2 separate regions of the Homo sapiens genome follow, and region 1 is linked to region 2. The links come from fine-mapping of genetic effects on gene expression. Tissue or cell type: whole blood. Region 2 holds a variant in brackets; the other region holds the start of a gene. All regions are shown on one strand. Distances are from middle to middle.

The links. PIP is the estimated chance that this variant, and not a neighbour inherited with it, causes the effect.
Region 1: CCNT1 starts here. The variant in region 2 is fine-mapped to the expression of CCNT1 in whole blood (INTERVAL, PIP above 0.99).

Annotation. Positions count from the first base shown.
Region 1 is chr12:48,713,530-48,719,761 of GRCh38, forward strand. CCNT1 (cyclin T1) reads right to left here and starts at 3,178. Exons shown (of 9, transcript NM_001240.4): 1 at 2,986-3,178; 2 at 914-995. The coding sequence starts at 3,146. RefSeq lists enhancers at 2,943-3,222, 3,293-4,293, 3,693-3,932.
Region 2 is chr12:48,685,989-48,692,220 of GRCh38, forward strand. It overlaps CCNT1 (cyclin T1), which reads right to left. Exons shown (of 9, transcript NM_001240.4): 9 at 2,470-6,232. Among named protein-coding and RNA genes, the nearest start is that of KANSL2, 6.9 kb to the left of the region's middle. The variant GAA/G (reference allele first, on the strand shown) is at 2,856.

The sequences.
Region 1 (6,232 bases), 28 kb after region 2:
TCCCAACATTTTAGAAGGCGGAGGCGGAAGGATCCCTTGAACCCTGGAGTTTGAGACCAGGCTGGACAACACAGGGAGACCCCATCTTCACAAAAAAAATTTTAAAAATTACCAGATATGTTGGCAAGCCTGTGGTCCCAGTTACTTGGGAGGCTACGGCAGGAGGACTGCTTGAGCCCAGAAGGTTAAGGCTGCAATGAGCCATAATCAAATCACTGCATTCCACCATGGACAACAGGGCAAGACCCTGCCTGTCTCCCTACCCCAGCAAGAAAAAGAAAGCTATACCTAAATTCCACATGATTTCCCCTTTAATGTTACTCCTCCAACCCCAAAATGTTGACTTTAGATGTCTGATAATCTGTTTTTTGGGGTTTTTTTTGAAGACAGGGTCTCACTCTGATGCCCAGGCTGGAGTGAAGCGACTCAATCTTGGCTCACTGCATCCTCAACTCCCTGAGTTCAAGCAATCCTCTTGCCAGCTGCTGGAGTAGCTGAGACCACAGATGCATACCACAACACCCAGCTACTTGCTTTTTGTTTTTGTTTTTGATATTTTGTAGAAATGAGGTCTCATTATGTTGCCCAGGCTGGTTTTGAACTCCTGGGCTCAAGTGATCCTCCCATCTCAGTCTCTCAAAGTGCTGGGATTACAGTTGTGAGCCACTGCACCCGGCCTAATCTACTTCTTTAGAGAATCGACATGGATATACTAAATCCACTAGACAAGTAGACACTTAACAGGAAAACTGAAAAGCTGGATTCAGAACAGCAACACAGCACATAATGGAAGTGATCAACCCTAAATTCTAAAGTTCAAGTTACAGTTCAGTAGCAAAGACCAACCACAAATGGAATAGGTAGGTGGAATCAATCACAAAAGGATTATATCATATAAAAAAATTATACTTACATTTCCAGGGAACTGTGTGAAGGACTGAATCATGTAGAATCGATGCATGTATACTATAGCAGTGTTGATAGTCAATTGTGAGCTGAAGTGTTCAAGTTAAGATCCAAAAACAGGCAGGTATAATTCTGGAAAAGATAACCTCTATCTCCCTCCCAAAAGGATGAAATGGCCAAGCAAGTAGATACTACTAAATGAAAATCATACTTATCTCTCCAAATCAAAGAATATGTCTGTTTTCTTTCACCAAATTATTAATCGCCAACTGACACTTAGCACAATGCCTTACACATAACAAATATTTAATATAAATGTACTGAATGAATAAACAAACATCTCAGGATGTATGAATCTAGACAGATTTTTTTAAAAACTATATAAGGCGGCCAGGCGCGGTGGCTCACACTCTGTCGCCCACACTGGAGTGCGGTGGCACCATCTTGGCCCACTGAAACCTCTACCTCCCAAATTCAAGCGATTCTCCTGCCTCAGCTTCCCCAGTAGCTGAGATTACAGGCGCCCACCAACAGACCTGGCTACTTTTTGTATTTTTAGTAGAGACATGGTTTCACCATGTTGGCCAGGCTGGTCTTGAACTCCTGGCCTCAACTGATCGACCTGCCTTGGCCTCCGAAAGTGCTGGTATTACAGGCGCGAGCCACCGCGCCTGGCTGACAACCTTAATGACAACACACATACAAAAAGGAAAGCATTTTAAGGATGCACTGAAATAGAATTTCGAACAAAAAGATTTAACTCCATACTGACAGGATGCTTAGGAAACAAACCTGGACATCAGCAGGAAACAAACTGGCGATAAAACAGACACCCATTTTGAGATGAACACACCCTTAAGATACACACATTACTGTCAGCCACACATTTAAATAGAAGCTGCACCCAAGAAAATTTTCACACGCAGAGTGGAAAGAAATTTAAAACTATACTAGTTTTCTCCACCATAAAATAAGTGTATTTCCTAACAAACAAAAATATGTGGGAGAGGTTACCTCATTTTTTTTTTAATTTTTTTTTTCTGAGACGGAGTTTCACTATTGTTGCCCAAGCTGGAGTGCAGTGGCGCCATCTCGGCTAACTGCAACCTCCGCCTCCCGGGTTCAAGCGATTTTCCTGCGTCGGCCTCCTGACTAGCTGGGATTACAGCTGCCCGCCACTACGCCGGGGTAATTTTTTGTATTTTTAGTAGAGACAGGGGTTTAATCATGTTGGCCAGGCTGGTCTCGAACTCCTGACCTCAGGTGATCCACCCGCCTCGGCCTCCCAAAGTGCAGAGATTACAGGCGTGAGCCACCGCATCCAGCCGTTACCTCATTTTTGAAAATGAAATACATATCATCACTCTAAGTAAGTTAAGGACCCGGTATTTTGTAAACTATTTAAAACATTAGATTCGTGGGTATCCCCTACAAACGTAAACTAACATCTTTCCTCTGAAATTCTATAAAACAGTAGCTACTAACTGAGCATCTGAATGCAAAGCACTGTGCTGGACACAGAATCAAACACAAGAGGTATTATCCCATTTTATAGACAAGACGGCCAAAAATTTGAGAGGTCACTTAAACAGCTAGTAGATGAGGAATGGATTTTGGACCAAGGCTGAGGCATTAATTCTAGTCCACCCTTTATAACACTTTCAGGTACTGAATTTCTCGAAATTTACACACTAGGTTTGGGAGGCAGCCGTCAACAGAGAAACCTCTGCCAGACCTAGACCCCTAGGGCACAGCGGAAAATGAGAATCTTAACGTCACCAGAGCAGATCAGAACACAATGAAGACAGAGTTGGAAGGGCTGGTTAAAACACAAAGCCGGGAAGGATACGAATTCCCAGCAAGGCTGGCGGCACGGGTGAGCGAGCGGGAAATCAACTCTGCCTCGCTTCCCTAGCGCTAACTGAGTTTCAGCCCGCCCCATCGTGGGCTCTCCCAACTAGACATCCAGCTTCTGCCCACCTTCTTCCCCACTTTCGTCCCCCCCACAGAGCCTGAGACCCGGACGCCAGAGCATGGCGGGACCAACTCCAAGGCCGAAGGCCTAGGCCACAAGGATACACGTTAAGACGCTGCCCCATGTCCTGAAGCAGATTGGCCGCCTGCTGGCGATAAGAAAGTTCTTTATCTGGGTCCACGCCAAAACGACGGGATGGGCTATTTTCCAGCTGTTCTCGAGTGAAATACCACCGTTTGTTGTTGTTCTTCCTCTCTCCCTCCATAGTGCTTCAACCAGAAGGCAGCGGCGAAGGCTGCAGGCACTTCCCAGCGTCACCTAAGAGGCGACCCACATCCGCTGTGCGGGGGCAACTGCGACTTGACGAACTTCCGCTAAGCGTCGACCGCCGGGTTGTTACTTGCCTCCGTAGAGGAAGCAAAAGTCAAAGGACCTACTTCCGGAATGCACCTCGCTACACCCCGTAGCCGAGTTAACAGCCAATATGCGACCAGAAAAAACCTTGAGGCGAGGACGCAGGCGCGTCACGTGACCGTTGGGCGGTGGAGTGGGGTTAGAAGTTCTTTCTTAAAAACCGTGTATCTTCCCGCGAGAACCGGATTGAGCGTTGGCGCCCCGGGTCAGGCTGCGAGGCCGCAATTATAGTGGGATGGGGCGGCCGCCCACGCGCCGCTTGGCGGTTCTTACGAGAACTTTGTTTGTGACGGCAGTGGTGATGTAAAATGGGGCAGATGGGCCGGGCGCGGTGGTTCACGCCTGTAATCCCAGCACTTTGGGAGCCCGAAGCGGGCGGATCACGAGGTCAGGAGTTCGAGACCAGCCTGGCCAATATGGTGAAACCCCCGTCTCTACTAAAAATACAAAATTAGCCGGCGTGGTGTCGCGCGCCTGTAGTCCCAGCTACTCGGGAAGCTGAGGCAGGAGAATCGCTTGAACCCGGGAGGCGGAGATCGCAGTGAGCCGAGATCACGCCACTGCACCCCAGCCTCCAGCCTGGGTGAGAAAGCGAGACTCCGTCTCAAAAAAATAAAATAAGTAAAAATGTGGCAGATGAACTTGAAAGAGAAAGTAGGTGAGGCTGTCAGAAACTGAAAAACAGAATCAAATGGTGGGGCTCTTTCGTATATCGGAGCATAAAGCAACTAGAAGGCTGTTACATTGTTGGTAGCAATGTAAAATGCGACAACCCATTTGGAGAGGTCGCTTTAATGTGTAGCCAAAGGCATGAAAACATTCTCACGTTGTTCGCCAGTGATCCAACTTAAAGGAATAAAATGAAATTAATAACATTAATTAAGAGCTTACATGTCCCAGGCACAATACTGACTTAAATATACTGTTTCATTTATTCAGCACAACTCTAAGAGGTAATTTTTAAGTACGTTTGCGAATGGGTGAACTAAAACTGCCCCTTGAGTGTGGAAAGCCTCCACCACTACCCCTCACTTGCACAGATTAGCAAGTTCTTGCCCTCTGTCAAAATATTTCCCAGCTCCTTTGCCGGGCGCGGTGGCTCAAGCCTATAATCCCAGCACTTTGGGAGGCCAAGGCGGGTGGATCACCTGAAGTCGGGAGTTCGAGACCAGCCTGGCCAACATGGTGAAACCTCATCTCTACTGAAAATACAAAAATTAGCCAGGCGTGGTGGCGCACGCCTGTACTCCCAGCTACTCGGGAGGCTGAGGCAGGAGAATCATTTGAACCCGGGAGGCAGAAGTTGCAGTGGGCCGAAATCGCGCCACTGCACTCCAGCCTGGGCAACATTGCGAGACTCCTTCTCAAAAAAAAAAAAAAAAAAAAAGATACATCCCAGCTCCAGCCTCTGATAACTGTTTGGTGCTGGGCAAGATAGTTAACTTCTCTATGCCTCTTTTCTGTGATAATACCTATGTTTTAGATAGTGAAAGGGAGTAAAGATTTAATGAGTAAAAAGTATTTATAATAGTACCTAGTACTTAGAAAATATTCAGTAGCCCTTATTGTTATAATATTTGTTACATTGTATTGAAATTGAAGGCAAGAGCAATGCCTTCATTTTTGTATGGCACTTACCTAGTAAAGCCCTGGCCCTAGTAAATAGTCCATAAATCTTTGTCAGATAAATGTGCAAAACACCCACAATACAGAAACTGAGGCTTTGGGAGTTTGCCCTCACTACACCACTAATAAGTGTAGATCTTAAATCTAATTCCATTGATCTTTCCATTCACGCAAGCTGTATTCCTGCTTTTCTGGAACCATATTCAGTTTACCTTGATTAAATATGGGTAATTTTAGATAGATTTGGATAATATTAGAATCCTTCATCTTGCTTTGATAATATTTTGGGTTTTGTCATTTCTAGGCATGGGTGATCTTACTATGCTTGATTGTCATTCATTCTCAGAAGTATTTCTTTCCATTCAGGTCACCTCTGCCATATACTGCCTGTAGTTAGTATTAGCTCCATTTTACCCTGGAGAAATTGAGGTTCAGGAAGATTTAAATGACTTACTTCTAGTTATAAAGTAAAAGAACTTGGGATTTCAAATTTCTTCCCTCACAGACTCTTTACTATTAAGAGAATAAGCACTTACAAAATAGATTTTTTAGTAGAATAAGCACTTTTTCAGTTATGTAGTCATGTATGTTATCTTTTGAACAGCTGTGTTAGTCCATTTTCACGCTGCTGATAAAGACAAACCCAAGACTGGGCAATTTACAAAGGAAAGAAGTTTAATGGAGAACTCACAGTTCCACGTGGCTGGGGAAGCCTCACAATCATGGCGGAAGGCAAGGAGGAGCAAGTGACATCTTACATGGATGACAGCAGGCAAACAGAGAGCTTGTGCAGGCAAACTCCCATTTTTTTAAAACCATCAGATCTCATGAGACTCATTCACTATCATGAGAACAGCACAGGAAAGACCCACCCCCATAATTCAATCACCTCCCACCGGGTTCCTCCTACCATATGTGGAAATTGTGGGAGTTGCAATTCAAGATGAGATTTGGGTAGGGACACAGTGCCAAACCATATCATTCCGCCCCCAGCCCCTCCCAAATCTCATGTCCTCACATTTCAAAATACAGTCATGCCTTCCCCACAGTCCCCCAAAGTCTCAACTCATTTCAGCATTAACTCAGAAGTCCACAGTCCAAAGTCTCATCCGAGACAAGCAAGTTCCTTCCACCTATGAGCCTGTAAAATCAAAAGCAAGTTAGTTACTTCATAGATACAATGGTGGTACAGGCATTGGGTAAATACAACCATGCCAAATGGGAGAAATTGGCCAAAACAAAGGGGCTACAGGCCCCATGCAAGTCCGAAATCCAGCAGGGCAGTCGAATCTTAAAACTCCAAGATGATCC
Region 2 (6,232 bases):
GCCTGGGCAACAAGAGCAAAACTCCATCTCAAAGAAAAAAAAAAAAGATACATCACTTCTCATTACCTTGGGTACTTCCAACCTGTCCAAGCCACCCTCATCTCTTACCTAAATTGTGAGAGCTCCTTGCCCTTGACTCCTATGATCTATTTTCAACACAGCAGCCCAAATGAACATTTTAAAACCTAAGTTGGATGTCATTTCCCTTCTCAAAACTTTCCAATAGCGTCTGTTCCATTCACTGTCTTTATACAAGGTCCTGTTGTATCTGGCTTTCTATTGCCTCTCTAACCTCATATCCTGCTACTCTCCTCTCTCCAATACCCCCTCCCCACTCATTCCTATACCAGCTACACTGGTTTCCTTGCTATTTCTCAAACATACCAGCATATTCTCACCTCAGAACCTTTGATGTCTCACGTTTCCTGGAATGATCTTATCCTAGTTATTCCCATGACTTGCTGTCACCTCCTTCAGGTCTTCCCTAAAGGTCATGAAGCTTCTGGTCATGAAGCCTTCCCTAGCCACCTTTTTTCCAATTCCCACAGCCCTAGTTACCTAAACACACACACGTGCTCACACACACACATGCACACACACATCCCTATCCCCTATTCCCTGTTTTAGTCTCCAAAGTGCTTATTATGGCCAGGTGTGGTGGCTCACACCTATAATCCCAACAAGAGTGAAGGAGGCCCAGACGGGCAGATCGCTTAAGCCCAGGAGTTCAAGACCAGACTGGGCAACATAGGGTGACCCCATCTCTAAAAAAATTAGCCAGGCGTGGTGGTGCACACCTGTAGTCCCAGTTACTCAGGAGATGGGAGGATCACTTGAGCCTAGGGAGGTCAAGGATGCAGTGAGCTGTTATCTCACCACTGCACTCTGGCCTGGGAGACAGTGAGACTTCGTCTCAAAAAAAAAAATTTTTTTTAAGTGCTTATCACCACCTAACATACTATGTTTTACTTATTTGTAAATTCTTTGAAGGCAGAATGTTTGTTTACTGCCATATTCCCATTAGTACAGTCCACAGCACTTAGTTTTTTTTTTTTTAACTTTTTTTTCCCGAGACTGGGTATAGATCTATAGCCCAGCAGGAGTGCAGTGGTCAATCATGGCTCACTGCAGCCTCCAATTGCTGGGCTCAAACAATCCTCCCTCCTCAGCCTCCCTAGTAGCTGGGACTATACACTACTGTGCCTGGCTAATTTGTATGTCTGTGTGCAGAGATGGGGTCTCACTTTGTTGCTCAGGTTGGTCTTGAACTCCTGGCCTCAAGCAATCCTCCCACCTCAGCCTCCGAAAGTGTTGGGAAGTAGGTATTATTTTCTAAAGAAGGAATGAATGAAAAGCAGGGGAGTGCTTCAAACCACACCAGAATTCCTAAACTGTCAGCATCTTCCTATTCTATCAGCAACTTCTGCAAAGATTTCCGATTTCATATTCTTTTCAGGAGCGGTATACAGTTTGTAAAATTAGCTACCTTATTTTAGAAAACAGAAGAAACGACTCAAGTGACTTTTCAGAAGTATCATTATTTATTTTTTTCCTTTTAAAGCTTTCAAACTATATCTATTACTAACTTTGTGTAATAAGTATGGAGTACTTTAGCATAAAAGTTCTTTATTTTCAGTGTGTAATTTACAAGAGTTACCTTGTAAATGTGGTTTTATTACGTCTCAGGATGAGTATTCACTATCAATTTTTCCAGGCACTACCAAGAATGTTTTTTTCTTCGAAGTGTATTTTCCTCCAGATACAATGCTATGTCTGTACTAACATGTCAGGCTTTTCAAAGAACCACGTATACAATTATGAATCATGTTGATAATGCTTGCTAGATAAGCAGTACATGCTGCCATCATCTGTTAGTGCTATAATTTTTTTTTTGTACAAGTTACTCTTCCAGGTATTCATGTAACAATACAGAGTGAGGGTTTTTTTCTTCCCTTTGACTACAACATACTTTATACTACTGGGTTTACTGATCGACAAATCTTGGGTCTTTCCAACGGACTCAATTCCCACAGGATCTTGCACAATAAGAAAACAGACTAATACCAAAATTGAAACAAAATTGTAAACATATCAATAAAATTACAGTTAAAGACTAAGGACTAGGCTGGACGCGGTGGCTCATGCCTGTAATCCCAGCACTTTGGGGGGCCGAGGTGGGTAGATCACCTGAGGTCAAGAGTTCGAGACCAGCCTGGCCAACACAGTGAAACCCCGTCTCGACTAAAAATACAAAAATTAGCTGGGCATAGTGGTGGGTGCCTGTAATCCCAGCAACTCAGGAGGCTGAGACAGGAGAATCGCTTGAACCCGGGAAGCAGAGGTTGCAGTGAGCCGAGATCACGCCACTGTACTCTCCAGCCTGGGTGACAGGGCTAGATTCCGTCTCAAAAAAAAAAAAAAAAAGACTAAGGACTAATTTGAGGACAGTACACATAAACAACAATCAAATGAGTGTTTTACCATTAACATTTATTGATGGGATGGATAAATACAGATTGAGAAACATACTTGACAGCAAGATATCAAACTGATAGCCAGACTATAAAATGTATACATCCTTTTTAAATTTTTTGAATTTTTTTACAAAGAGCCCTTACTATAATGGTCACTTACCTCCTATCATTCACATAACAGCAGTAGATATCCCAGGGGTAGCATCCAGAGCTGAGGTGCCCCAAGGAAGACAGAGGCAATGGCAGAATAATATGCTGAGAAAGGACTCTTAAGAGCAATACAAAGAGAACAGACAAAAATCTCACCACAAAATTGTACCTGAGTGACAGATTGGTAAAGTGTTTTACTTTTTTTTTTCTTTTCGCTCTTTGGTCTGACAA[GAA/G]AAGAGTTTTAGGTGTGTGAAGTAGGGTGGGAAAAAAGGTCAGTTTCAAATTCAGTAACATATGGTAACACTAAGTTAGGCTGCTGCATTCTTTTCTTTGGGTACTTAAGCCAGCTGGCACTTCCACTTTGTAACCAATTATATTATGATCAACAACTAATCAGTTAGTTCCTCAGCTTCAACTGAAGAGTTCCTGATTACCTGATGAAGGACATACTTGCTCTGGCTTCAATTAGCATGCTGTCAAGCATCCCTCTCCATGCTTAACATGGCAACACAAAACCCAAGAGTCCTTCTCTTTTTTTCATTAGCCATGAATAAACACTCACAAAGGGGAAGAGTAGACACTGCTTTTAGTAAACGTCCTTTTTCTTTACCTCCCTTTTCCAATGCCAAGTTCATATGAAAAACTTTAGAAACATTAAAATGGAGAACTCTCTCACCCAAAAAGTAATTCTCATTCCAGACTACTCTATCAGGCAGGATTACTGTACCGTGCTTGTTTCAAACTCACATCCACGGAGGGATAAAAAGACAAAATAAAACTTGACAGTGTGATACAACATGAAAATCTCCTAAACCATCAGGAGCAAACACTCAGTTAAAAGCTGGGTGTTAACAAGCAGCAACTCAAGAAACTTGGGGAGGTATCAAAGTCACTGAAAGCTTACTGGAACCTCGGAGGGCTATTTCTCACCATTTGATGAGTTGCATAGACTGCTTAAATTCTCCCAAGACCAAAAGAATAAAATTTGTATTTCAACTGCAAGATGTTCTAGATTCTCTCTTTTCTTAGTATCAAAATAACTCATAAACAAAAAAAATTGTAAATATTAATCAGTTCCCAAAATAACGGAAACACAGATATGTTTAAAATCCAACCATACTGGGATAGACAGGGCCCCTCTACAATTGCCTTTACTTGGAAGCCATGTATGTGGAGGAGTATGCATTTCAATATGGAGAATTAAGTAGCAGAGGTTTAAGATAACTCAGCAGTGATGTCACCATGATTTTATTTCCATATCCTAATCCATTGCTGTTTGCAACTGGAGATTTAAAATTTTTCTGTCAACACTGGTAAAGCCAATAATACTGAACTATGTAGTATACACTAAATCAAAACACTAAAATCATTTTTAAAAAGGAAGAAAAAAGAAGTTGAGGCTCTCTGATATGGACATACACTGATTCATGAATGGGAAGACTAGACTAACACCTAAGTATTTTCTAAACTCAAAAGCATAACTGATACTTCAGAAGACCGATTTGGATCGATGCTTCACTACAGTTCAGCTAACAGCAACACAGGTATCTGATTAAAAGCCTTAAGGACAATCCACAGGTATTTGTTTTTGCCAACACGAGTCTAGCAAAATTTTAGGAATGAGATTTACAGAAGCTGAGGCTCCAGGCCTACTTATCACCATCACTTATTTTTGACAGTCTAGGTTACATGGAGAAACAAAAAGCCATATTTATCAGACTAACTTTGGATGTATAAATCTCATTTCTCACCCTTTGAAGGTACAAGGATAGGAAAGACACATAGAGCTCAGAAACCACACAGCCCTTAAAAACCTTAAGTTTATGGAATTTGGACAATACACATGCTAGTTGACAGGCACATCTGTTAACCCAAAAACAAAGCAGCAGCTTCATGCAGAGCCCACAAGGAGCTTCATGACATATGCATAGATCTAAAAACAGACACTGTACGTATCTTAAGACAGTACCAGGAGGCATTAACACAGAAAGGTCTCTAAACTGACCTATGTCAGCAATGATCTACTAGTGCAAAGGCCGGACTACACGGCACAAAGCAACTCTTAGGCCCTAGTAAGCACTTTTTTCTAGTTCACTCCTGGCAAAGTTCTAAGGAACTTTACTACAGTACGGCCATGGATAACTGCTATGAGGCCAAATGATTATGTGCCTCTGTGGTAAAGGAGTGCATGTGATTAGAAAATATGTGACATTTGATGAGAGTAACTAAAAGCTGGAAAAGACATTTTTCAAAATCAAACCAGTGATCATCAAGTCCACAAAGATACAGATGCAGACTAAATGGCACATTCCCTTTTGGAAACAGACTCCAACAAACAAAATCTAAATAAATAGAAGCCCTAAATGTACTAAACCACAACTATATATCTACCAATTATCTAACACAACATAGAAAATATCAAGGGGAAAGAGGAAAATGTCATCTATAAAGTGAAGTGACACTCTAAGTCAAGAAGTATTAATGATTTACAGGTCAACAGAGAGCTCCTCGTTTTATACCCAGCAATGGCAGGAACTCTAGACAGTTCAAATATGCAAGATGCAGGGCACTAACCCACCGTCAGTTAACGTTTACTCCTGCCTACAAATTCCTTTCTATATTAGGCCAGTACATCATCAATTCCAACAGCCACAATTTTCTTCCCAACCTGTTCCTGGCAAGTAGCAGCATAAGTACAACTCCTGTCTCCCTATGACTTCCAAATGAAAAATAATTCGACCTCTCCCTAAAAAATCCTTGGCATGAAGTAAGCTGCAATCAAATCATGAAAACAAACTCAAATTGAACCACCTTTTCCAGAGCAAAAAAAATGCAATGAAGATCAAAGAATATCTCATTAAATGATCTCTGGCTAGGTAGTTTTCAGTGGTTAGACAACTAACTTAGAATTCTTTCTAGCCAAGATTTTCTGAAAGATTTATTAAAAATGTTCACTCCTAATATCTGGGATAATCAAGCCTCCATAACAACAGGACTCTTGACCTATTTTTATAAAGGACTTAGAAATCTTAAGAACCTCGATCAAGAACCTAAAGCTACCAAAGATGAACAATCTAAACACAATAGTATCCATTGGCTAGGCTTTGCTCATTCTCATGGCACCAGTACTGTTAAATTCACAAGCTCCAATCTCAAGTCATATAGGCTGCAAAAACTTGAGGATGTAGCTGTTTCCCTTCGGATATACACATAAAAAGCATGTCTTACATTTATAATGTAATTTTTAAAACAATGTTCTAAACTTCCAAATCACAATTTCATTGTTTTTAGTATCCTCTAGCTTCTCCCATATGGTTTGGGCTTTCACAGGCAGGATATACATAGCACATTCCCCATCTCTTAGAGACCTTAAGACTGCTCTCATTTGAACACTTTCCCAAAGCCTCACTTGAAAAAAAAGACACACCCAATTCTGTAGGGCAGAAGCTGGCCTTGCTCGCCAACCCTCCTTCCTCAACCCCATCTCTGTTTTGCACAAAAACAAAAAAAGGGGTAAAAAGGAAGTTCTCATAATAAGGTTAAGAGTCAGGGTGTTGGCTGTACTTGCCCAAACTACAAATTAGAGGGCTACTACTCAATTATAACAT